Linked DNA regions of Homo sapiens: region 2 is linked to region 1. Evidence: fine-mapped expression QTL. Tissue or cell type: whole blood. Region 1 holds a variant in brackets; the other region holds the start of a gene. All regions are shown on one strand. Distances are from middle to middle.

Region 1 (5,000 bases):
TTGTAGGCACCCTCTGGGGACAGAGCTCAATTCTAGGCACAGTAGGGAAACAAGGATGAATGGGCTGACCTACCCCCAGGAGCCCTATCTCCTAGCCCACAAAGTGACACACGACACACATCAGGCATGCGCAAGACACTGTCCTCAGGCCCGACCCCAGTCCCCCACTGGTATCTGCCATGGAGGTTGCAATTTGTGGCACGGGAGGGAGAACATAAACCCATCTGCTAACAAGGCTGGTGTGTGTGAGTACTGCAGGCCCAGACGGTTCTCCTTAACATGCTGACGTCTTTATGGAGTCTGACGTTTGGCTGGCTTTGCTCTGTGAGATCAGTGGTCTTCCAGGGTAAGTTTCCCAATGTTTTCTCTAAGGGAAGTAACACAGGCCTTCTTACTAGGCTTCTCCAGCAGGAGAAAAAGGGCGAGAGTTTTAGGGCCATCAGGAGAGTCTCCAAACACATCTGATCTTCTAGAAGCAGCTTGGAGGGAAGCCCTGAATAGGGAGTATAGTGAGCAGTCTCGAGGCCGAGAGTTCAAAGCAGGGTTTCCCTAGCTCTCTCGGCCTCAGTTTCTTCCTCTGTGAGATGGGCTCTTCAATTCACACCATCCCTAGGATTCAATGGCAGCACATCAGGCACATGGCGATGTGTCTCTGTGCTGTGGACAGGAAGAACGGTCAGAGGTCTGGATACAGCCAGTGTTTCTGCCATAACACAGAGGAAGCAAGAGCAGACCAATGCCTTTGGAAATGTTGCTTCATGGCCCAGATCCATGGGAATTTGCCCAGCTACTCGAGGGAGACCTTTCAAACTTGCTCAGAAAATCTGATTTTCTTTGACTTTTTGCTGCCAGCAATTTAGCTGAGTTGGGTGGTTACTTTGTCTACCTTTTTCTTTCAGTTTTCTCCCAAGCTGATCAAAGAAGCCCAAACGGAGACTCAAAGCCAATATAATAGTCAACTACAATGCTCTCCCTGTTCTGGGACCAGTGGTGGGTGGCATGGACTGGCCACACTTCAATCCCTCCTGGGACATTAAACTGTTCGAAGCGTGTCCCACAGCTAGTCCAGGGTGAATGCCACATTTCTGCTGGCCCGAGCCTGTAATGCCTGCTGGCCCTGGCCAGACCCCTCCTCATCCCGACCCCACTTCCTCATCCTCGGAACAGGGGCTTGGCTTCATTCTCCTCTAAAACTTTGAGCTCAAAGATTTCACAATATCTCTCCTATTCAATGTCCTTGGTCACCAAAATGAGGGATCTGAATCAGCATGGAGGACAGGGAAAGGGGAGATGTGCATTGCAGAACCATTTCTTTCACTATCAACTCAGGATTTTACCAAGTCCTCTCACTTCCTCGTGACTCAGTCGCTTCATTTGAAAAAAGCAAAGGAAAGGGCAATCTGGTCTATCCTTCCTAAGGAAGATGCAGGGATACAAGGAAAAATAGAACCGAAGCAACAAGTTCCAGAGGCAGGTTGAGTCCTTGAAGCCTGAGCATATAAGACAACTCACAAACACCCAGGCCCTTTCACCGGCCTAGCTGGGGGAGAGGATGGGTGGAGAAAGGCCCACCAGCATTGGTGCAATGTCACTGAAGCAGCTACCCTCAATGGGGTGAGTACCTTGCGGACACCATGGCAGTTCTCAGCCCAAGAGCTGATGCTCTTAAAACCCATCAGAATTGGCTGGGCGTGGTGGCTCATGCCTGTAATCCCAGCACTTTGGGAGGCCAAGGTGGGCAAATCACCTGAGGCTGGGAGTTTCAGACCAGTCTGATCAACATGGAGAAACCTCATCTCTACTAAAAATACAAAATTAGCCAGGCGTGGCGGTACATGCCTGTAATCCCAGCTACTTGGGAGGCTGAGACGAGAATCGCTTGAACCCGGGAGGTGGAGGTTGCGGTGAGCCGAGATCATGCCATTGCACTCCAGCCTGGGCAACAAGAGCAAAACTCTGTCTCAAGAAAAAAAAAAAAAAAAAAAAAAAAAAGCCGGGCACGGTGGCTCATGCCTGTAAACCCAACAATTTAGGAGGCCGAGGTGGGTGGATCATCTGAGGTCAGGAGTTCGAGACCAGCCTGGCCAACATGGTGAAACCCTGTCTCTGCTAAAAATACAAAAATTAGCTGGGCATGGTGGCAGGTGCCTGTAACCCCAGCTACTCGGGAGGCTGAGGCAGGAGAATCGCTTGAACCCTGGAGGCAGAGGTTGCAGTGAGCCAAGATCACGCCACTGCATTCCAGCCTGGGAGAAAAGAGCAAAACTCCATCTCAAAAAACAGAATAAAACACCATCAGAAACTCCAAGCAGATCTGCCTGAGTTGGGAGGAAAGAATGATTGAGGGGATCCAGTTCCATCTCTACCACGAATTCATTTTTGTTATTTATTTATCTACTTATTTAGAGACAGGGTCTCACTCTGTCACCCAGGCTGGAGTGCAGTGGTGCGATCATAGCTCATC[G/A]TAACCTCAAACTCCTGCACTCAAGCAATCCTTCCACCTCAGCCTCTCAAGTAGCTGGGACTCCAGGCACATGCCACCATGCCTAGCAAATTGTTACATTTTTTTCGGAAGTATGGGGTCTCACTATATTGCCCAGTCTGGCCTTGAACTCCTGGGCTCAAGCAATCTTCCTGCCTCAGCCTCCCGAAGTGCTGGGATTACAGGCATAAGCCACTGCACCTGGCCTCTACTTATATGACTCTAAAGAAGTCACATCCCTGGCCTGGGCCTTAGTTTCCTCATCCGTGAGCAGAGCTGGCCGATCAGACCAATCCCTGCCAGCCCTGACACTATGCACTCCTCCAGCAAGCAGGAAAACAGTAGTGTGTCTTGTTATTTCTGAGCAAAGGCCTTAATTGTTCTCTACAGCATGAACTCCTCTATCTAAAAACCACAACATCTCCTCTCCTCTCCCTCCCCTGCCACCCCCTTCCTCCGAGATCCACAAGACTGTTACAGAACATTCATTTATTTTTCTTCGGTGCTTGGGCTGAAAACTCTGATGACTAAGCCATTGAATTTTAATACGCTACTGTGCTCCTTGGAGGGTTTCTTCATTTCCCAGATCCCCCTCCCCCACCCCCTGTGCCCTCTGTAGACATGTGGTAGTCGTTAGGAACAGTTTGATGAAGTTTAGGTTTTCAGAGTAGAGGAGAGATGGGGGCCAGTGGGTGGGAGGGGAGGGAGAGGCGGGGGAGGTATGATAAATGGACACAACAGTCCAGAGGCCACTCAGAAAATAAACATAAAGCTCCTTTTGAGTGAGCCCACTAAAAACAAATTCCCCAAAAGCTTTTTCCTTTTTGTGGGGTGGTAGGGGAGGGAGGGGCGGGGCGGGGAGGAAGTGCTGGTGGAGGTAGGAGAGGAAAATTCTCTCAATGTAAATGGACTCTGTTCAGAGAAAGAAACAATTCTCTTTATTGGCAGCAGCAGACGTGCACGTCGGATGCTGCCAGCCATGTGTCACGACGGCCAAGTACTCTGTAGCTGAGGCCAGGCATTCAAATTCTGGGTGCTCGAGAGGCGGCAGCCCTCAGAAGAGCAAGCCAATGCTGGTGGAATTCCATGGAGAAACCTGGGTCACCACGGCAGACAGGGACAGACTCAACTGGCCAGGAACACCCCACTGGGGCTCAGTCTTGCTGACTTTCTGAAGGTCCCTGGCATTCTCTTTCCTGGACCCCAACCCTGGCCTCTTCCCCATCCTGACGGCATCACTCCCTGCCCCCATCCCACATTTCCATCCCCGTAGTTGAGAAACCCTAAACCTGGGCCCTGAATACATGTCTGCATGTTTGAAAATACTTGTAACACAGAGAAAAGGCAATATTTGAAACAAAAAAAATCCTAGACTTTGAATGGTAAGATTTCACTTGCAACCTGAGTTTCTTCTCCAGTGGGTGAGTTGAAGGTTTGAAAAGGAATCACCCTAGTGGGGGAAAGTGCATCATCTCCAGTTTTTGGTGTGGATTTCGTTTATGTTTGTTACACAAGGACTTGGCCAACCAGGTGCTATCTGAGAAGGAAGTATCAGTGTTCTTATGCTTTCCAGGAGGACATTGGAGACTTCCCTTATTAAATTGCCTTGCACACGGGGGTTTTTTGGGGTACCTCCCCAAGGATCTCTTAAGCACATTCTTCAGATACACTGTAAATGCTAAGAAAATGAGAGTTCACTCCTCTTCAATTTTTATTATAAATAATGCACAAATGTATGTAAAACATGCTCCCTATTTTAAGATTTCTTTTTTAGACAGGGTCTGGCTCTGTTGCCCAGGCTGGAGTGCAGTGGCTTGATCTCGGCTCACTACAACCTCTGCTTCCCGGGCTGAAGTGATTCTCCAGCCTCAGCCTCCTGAGTAGCTGGGACTATAGGCGCCAGCCACCATGCTCGGCTAACTTTTTAATTTTTTTTGGAGAAACAGGTTTTCTCCATGTTGCCCAGGCTGGTCTTGAACTCTTGGGCTCAAAGTGATCCACCTGTCTTGGGTTCTCTTGGATTATCAAAGTGTTGGGATTACAGGCTTGAGCCACTGTGTCTGGCCTGATGTTTTTCTTGTACATATTTAAGAAGTCAAGTAAATAAGTTCAGATGCTCACAGTAGAAAAATAACTACCTCAGAGCTCCTGGAATGAGGAACACGAAGCAGAAGATGCCATCAGTCTGAGAACCCACTCTCTCCTCTTAGTGGATGCTAGGGATGGGGACAGGACGGCTGACATTTCCCAGATCATCCACTGCAGCAGCGTGGAATCAGAGGGCCTGGGTTTGATTCCTGCTCTGCCACTAGCCAAAACCTCAGGCAGTCATTGGAACTTGCCGTGCCTTTACTGCCTTATTTGTAGAACAGGGATAATGACAGGTACTGGAAGGGTATTGGAATGCTGCACCGGCAGGGTGGGCCAGCCACTGCGTGAGTTTCCTGGGGCTTCTGTAACAAAGTACCATGAACTGGGAGGCTTTAAACAGCAGAACTTTATTCTGCTACACTCCTGG
Region 2 (5,131 bases), 92 kb after region 1:
TAATGTCAAAGTAAGCCATGCTTGGTACAGAGTGTCTTCAAAATGGGCCTAACATGTCAACTGTTCTCGAAAACTGGGCTAATCAAAAAACAAAGCATAAGATCTGAGAGCTATAGTCCAGTAAGAAAAACAAACAAACAAACAACAACAACAAACCAGAAAAACAAAGCTGTTTCTTCTCCACCAGCATCTAGAACCTTAAAGGGGCCTACCTGGATTCAAACTGGATTCAAATTCCAGTTTTGCCATTTAACATCTATGTAATGTTGGGCAGATTATTTAACTGCTGGGTACCTTGGTTTCCTTATCTGTAAAATGGGCATCATACTATGCAGTAAGTACCTACCTAATAGGCTTGCTAGGAGTACTTGAGTTAAATACAAAGTGCTGAGAATAATGACGACACATTAAGGGTTATTTTGCATTTCAGCTATTATGATTATGTTAAACCATGTTTTGACTTCTTTTATCCCTTTCCAGTCCCCACCTGACCTCTTCCACTGCCTGCTTATTTGCCACTGAAAGCTGCCCCCCAAATGGCCTTCCAATCAGATCGTAAGGCTGTTTAACCATAATACCATTCTGAACAGTTTATGGTGCTGACTTCTCAAACTGAAGTCTTGTAGGTAGTTTGCAGTTGAATGCAATGTCACACCCCCTAACATTGTCAGGGAAAAGGTCATGTGCTTTGTTTCCATCCTTTGCACCAAATCCATGCTATCTTCAGGGAAGTGCAACCACCCAATGGTTCCTTTCCCAGACTTGACCCCATGCGGTTACCTATCTCTTCCCCTTGATGGGCCACCACTCTTTTCAGGAAAGAACATTTAATACAATGCAAGGTTTTAACCAATGGCTCACTTGGTTGGTGACAGCTTGGAAAAATCAGGTCTCAGGAGACAATCTGTGGTTACTTTTCTGGGAAGGGGAGTCGGGGTCCCCAGGTTTCATCATTCCTGGGCACATATAGGTAAGAGCGAACCACTACCCCTCCATCCCCCAAGAGAGCGCCTGACAGCATCCTTCAGCCCAGCAAAGCACAAGGCGCAGCACCAGATCTTGGGCTTCCCACTTCCCTCCGCCCATCTTACTTATCCAAGGTTCAGGTCTTTAAGTTGGGACCCTTTGGTTGCTGCTATTGAGCTGGGGAAAACTAGGGGGCAGAATCAGTCAATCTAACCAGCTGTTGGGGAAAGACAGCAGCTAGAGACCTAGTCAATCACGGTAAAGAGCCACGGGGCAGTAAGTTTCATTTCAAGAGAGGTTCAGGAATGGCTTGGTCAAGAGATTCAATCTCACCCAATCAATGAACAGCCCGCAGATAGTAACAATGCCACGCAGAACAGGATGGAGATCATTCACAAGTTTACCCTCCAAAAGTCAGACACCCTTAGAACAATCTCTGGCAAGTGCCATGTAATGAACCCTATCCTCAGACCAAACGTTTTCTCCCAAAGAACTGGCACAGCCACCAGCTTTGTCTCAGGAAATTCACTCCCCCAGTAGCCCAGGGCGGGATTTCTTGCCTACCCAGTCTGCCAGTCCGAGGCCCGCGCGCTTACCATTGGCGTTCTTGCCGCAGATGAGATGCTCATAGGGCTGCAAGACGCCCCAGAGCTCGGCGTCGTTGTTGATGACCATCTCCAGGGCCTCAGCAGACACCTCCCCGCCTCCGGCCCCTCCGCCATCAGGGCTGTGGCTGGCCATCACCCTGGCCCGGATCTCCTCCACCAGGTTCTCCATGCAGGCGGTGAGGGAGATGGCTGCGTACTCGTGGATGCGCACGGAGATTCGGGTGTCCACCATCCAGCGGAAAAAGCGACCCACTGAGAAGGTGAGGCCGCAGCGCGCGGACTTGCCCCGGCGCAGCCCGTCGCCGGCGCTCATGCTGTACAGGGACAGCGCCTTGACGGCTGCCAGCGCGCAGCTCTCGGCCAGCGCCCAGCTGTGCACCAGGCGCACGGCGCTCTGCACCTCAAAGCGGGTGCACTTGGCGTGCAGCACGCTCAGGCGCTGCGCCTCGCGGGCCACGCGGATCAGTGCCCTGCGGAGCAGCCCGGCCAGGCGCCTCACCGCCTCGGCGGAGAACTGGGGCAGCCGCCGGCCGCCAGCGCCTTTGCGGAGCACCCGGGCCACGTCTCCTTCGGTCCAGGGGAACTCCTCCAGCTCGGGGAGCCGCGGACAGCGCGAGAAGAGGTCGGCCACTTCGGGGTCCTCGGGCAGCACCGTGTTCACCGTGTCCCAGCTGTTGTGGCGGCTGTTCATGGAGCCGGAGTAGCACCACCAGGCCGCCCCGCGGTGCTGCTGCGCCGAAGAGTTGAGCGCCTGCGAGTTGGACTTGGAGGACGAGAGGCTGAGCGAGCGGCACGAGTCCCCGGCCCCATACCCGGAGTCCAAGGTCAAGTCCTCCAGCGTCTTCAGAGTCGAGCTGTACGTCCCGGCCATGGGGAGCCTGCCGAGGGCGGCGTCGCCGAGCGAGGGGCACTCACAACTCCATGCCCTCTTTCCCAAGTGGGCAGAAACAAGCTCTAGGCCCTCCGGGCCACCCTCCTTCCTCTCTGCGTCGCGGGGCTCGGCGGCCGCATTGCCTGCCCGGAGGCCGCGGGAAGGTGGCCGAGATCCGTGGCCAGCAGGAGCCCCACGCTCCCGGCGTCCCGACTCGCAGCTGCCACTGGAAAGAACCCCGTCGCTACCCCCCGGCACTCCCCCTTGTCCACCTCTAATTCCCACAAGCAGAGAGTCAGTCCTCCACAGAGAAGGAATCCCGGGAGAACAGGGCGGCGGCGGCAGAAGGAGGAGGCGGCGGCGCAGGGCGCAGGGCGCAGCGCGAGTCCGGGACCAGCCGGCGAGAAAGCGCTCTGCAAACTTCTGCGCTGCGCCGGCCGGCAGCACAGCTGGGTACCCGGCTGCGTCCGACATGCAAATAACCCCGGGCGGCTTACCAATCACCGGCCGCGATGGGCGGGGCTGCACCAATGATCTCCGAGGGGGCGGTCACTATGCAGATTTCACTCTGCCTCGGGTTAAACCCCGCGGCGAAGGAGGCGGGGCTGGAGGCCGAGGGTCGGGCACGCGGCTGGGATGGGGGTGGGGATGGGGGGGGATGGGGGGGATGGGGGGGTGGGGGAAGGGCGAGCCAGCCAACTGGGAGGTGGAGGTGGAGACCGGAAAGCAGCGGTCGAAACGATAGCTCCGGAGCTCACGATTTAAAGAAAAATGCAAAGGAAAAGCTACAGGGCGCTGCCACCTTCCCGCCACCCAGGCTTTGGGCGTTCGCTGCTCGCTTTCGAGCCCTCCGCAGCCAGGCGTCCTGGGGTTGGGGCCAGGAGAATGGGGAGGGCCCCATCCAGGCGCTCCACCTCTCCTCCACCTTCCGCCAGGCCCCTCCCGCAATCCGAGATGAAACGCTGGCTGTGTTTGGAGGGAGGAGGGAGTCCCTGCCTCTCTTTCCAAGTCCGTCTGGTTCCTTTGCGCTGCCGTCTAGGCTCCAATAAGGACAGAATTTCTTAACCTGGTATCTGATCAATGGACGGGCCCCAGGAAGCCTGTGAGTGCCTCCGCCCATTTGTGGTTTCACCTGCAGTTTTCTGAGTGCCACTATGGGGAAGGGGCACCAACTTTTGTCAGATTCTCAAGAGGATCCGTGACTTCCCTGTTACCTCTGTGTGACGATACCACTTGCTGTCAGGTGGGTCCTTTTTGTCCGAGATAGACAGTGTTCTTACAGGAAGAATGAGAAGAAGGTGGCAGAGCAGTCCCTCGCCCTGGGCTGAGCTCGGAACACCTAGCTGGATGCAGGTGTTCGCCTCCTAACGCGTGCCGGTGGGCGAGCCGTATGCCCCCGCGGGACCCAGTTCCTCCGGGGTACAATGAGTGGCTGACCTCCAGGCAGCGCCAGTGCCAACCTGCCTCCGGGCGGGTGTCCCAAACGGTCCGCCAGAGCGCTGTTGGTTCAGCAGTCCCATGCCCGGTGCAGGCATGTCCCGCCGCTGCCCTGTGGCTACTCACACGCACGTGCGCAAACGGACCTGTGCCCCCTCCAGTGGAACCGCAGGCTCAAGGCGGGGATTGTGCATTCGCTCTCCCCAAGTCAGCCTCCCCCACTCCTGAATGGCTCCTTTGTGTTGCATTTTACACAGTTCTGACCTTGGGCCGTGAGTTGGATATGAACTAGAAATGTCTGGTTTGTCTCTTTCCTTCTTAAATTAATGGCCTTTACCCCCGGTGAAACTGCTTTTTATTTGGCAGTTTCGCTTAATTTTGCCTTTCCGCGGGTCTTTATTTATGCAACATCGCCGCCCGATGGTTAGAATTGGGAACAGAGTCAAAGATGGAAGTACTGTAATACCAAAGACGCAAGTCAGCAGAGATCAAACTAACAAAGGAGAATGCAGTCACACTTTACAGACGTGAGATTAGAAATTAAAGTAGGCAATGAGGTCCAACTTGTCAAAAATACAAAAGTAAATTTTATGCAATTTAAAACTTTATTGGGGAAATATAATATTAAAGGCAATGTCGCCCTCTAATGGATATATTCAAAGGAAATGAATTTCAGAAAGGTTTCCCTGTCCCCCCTTTTCTTCGTTGTGCGCACCCATCAAACCTAAAGAGAATTACTTAACTGGAAATTTACAACGGGGAACTTACTGAATGAAAGGTTATTGGAGGAATCATCTGGAGTGGGAAAAAGAGCCTATGGGATTTATATTAATATATTCAAATTACTTGATGACTTAAAGTGTAGATAATCAAACATGCCTCCAACTGAATCTGAGAATCCTGTGAATGTTGACCTGCAACATGAAGATATATTATGCAAAATTCAGCCATGGGAAATGCTTCTGAACAAACAACTGAGTTTCTTTAATAAATAAGTTTCAAGGAAAGAAAGAGATGGAGAGAAGACCTACACATTTAAAGAGACTTGAAAGACATAATAACCAATTACAAGGTGTGGAACTTATGTGTATTTTGAATTTGTTTTAAAAAGCCAGTAAACATTTGACATTATGAAACCATTAGGAACACTGCCTCGATGTTTGCTCTTAAAGAATAACTGTTTTTTTTTTTTTGATGTGGTAATGGTAGTGTGGTTATATTTATCAAATGTTCTTATCTTTTAGAGACA

Evidence for each region. PIP is the estimated chance that this variant, and not a neighbour inherited with it, causes the effect.
Region 2: ABTB2 starts here. The variant in region 1 is fine-mapped to the expression of ABTB2 in whole blood (TOPMed, PIP 0.91).

What each region holds. Positions count from the first base shown.
Region 1 is chr11:34,263,696-34,268,695 of GRCh38, forward strand. The region is part of intron 1 of ABTB2 (ankyrin repeat and BTB domain containing 2); the gene reads right to left. Among named protein-coding and RNA genes, the nearest start is that of ABTB2, 92 kb to the right of the region's middle. The variant G/A (reference allele first, on the strand shown) is at 2,465.
Region 2 is chr11:34,355,139-34,360,269 of GRCh38, forward strand. ABTB2 (ankyrin repeat and BTB domain containing 2) reads right to left here and starts at 2,872. Exons shown (of 17, transcript NM_145804.3): 1 at 1,563-2,872. The coding sequence starts at 2,445. RefSeq lists an enhancer at 1,798-1,907 and a silencer at 2,858-3,057.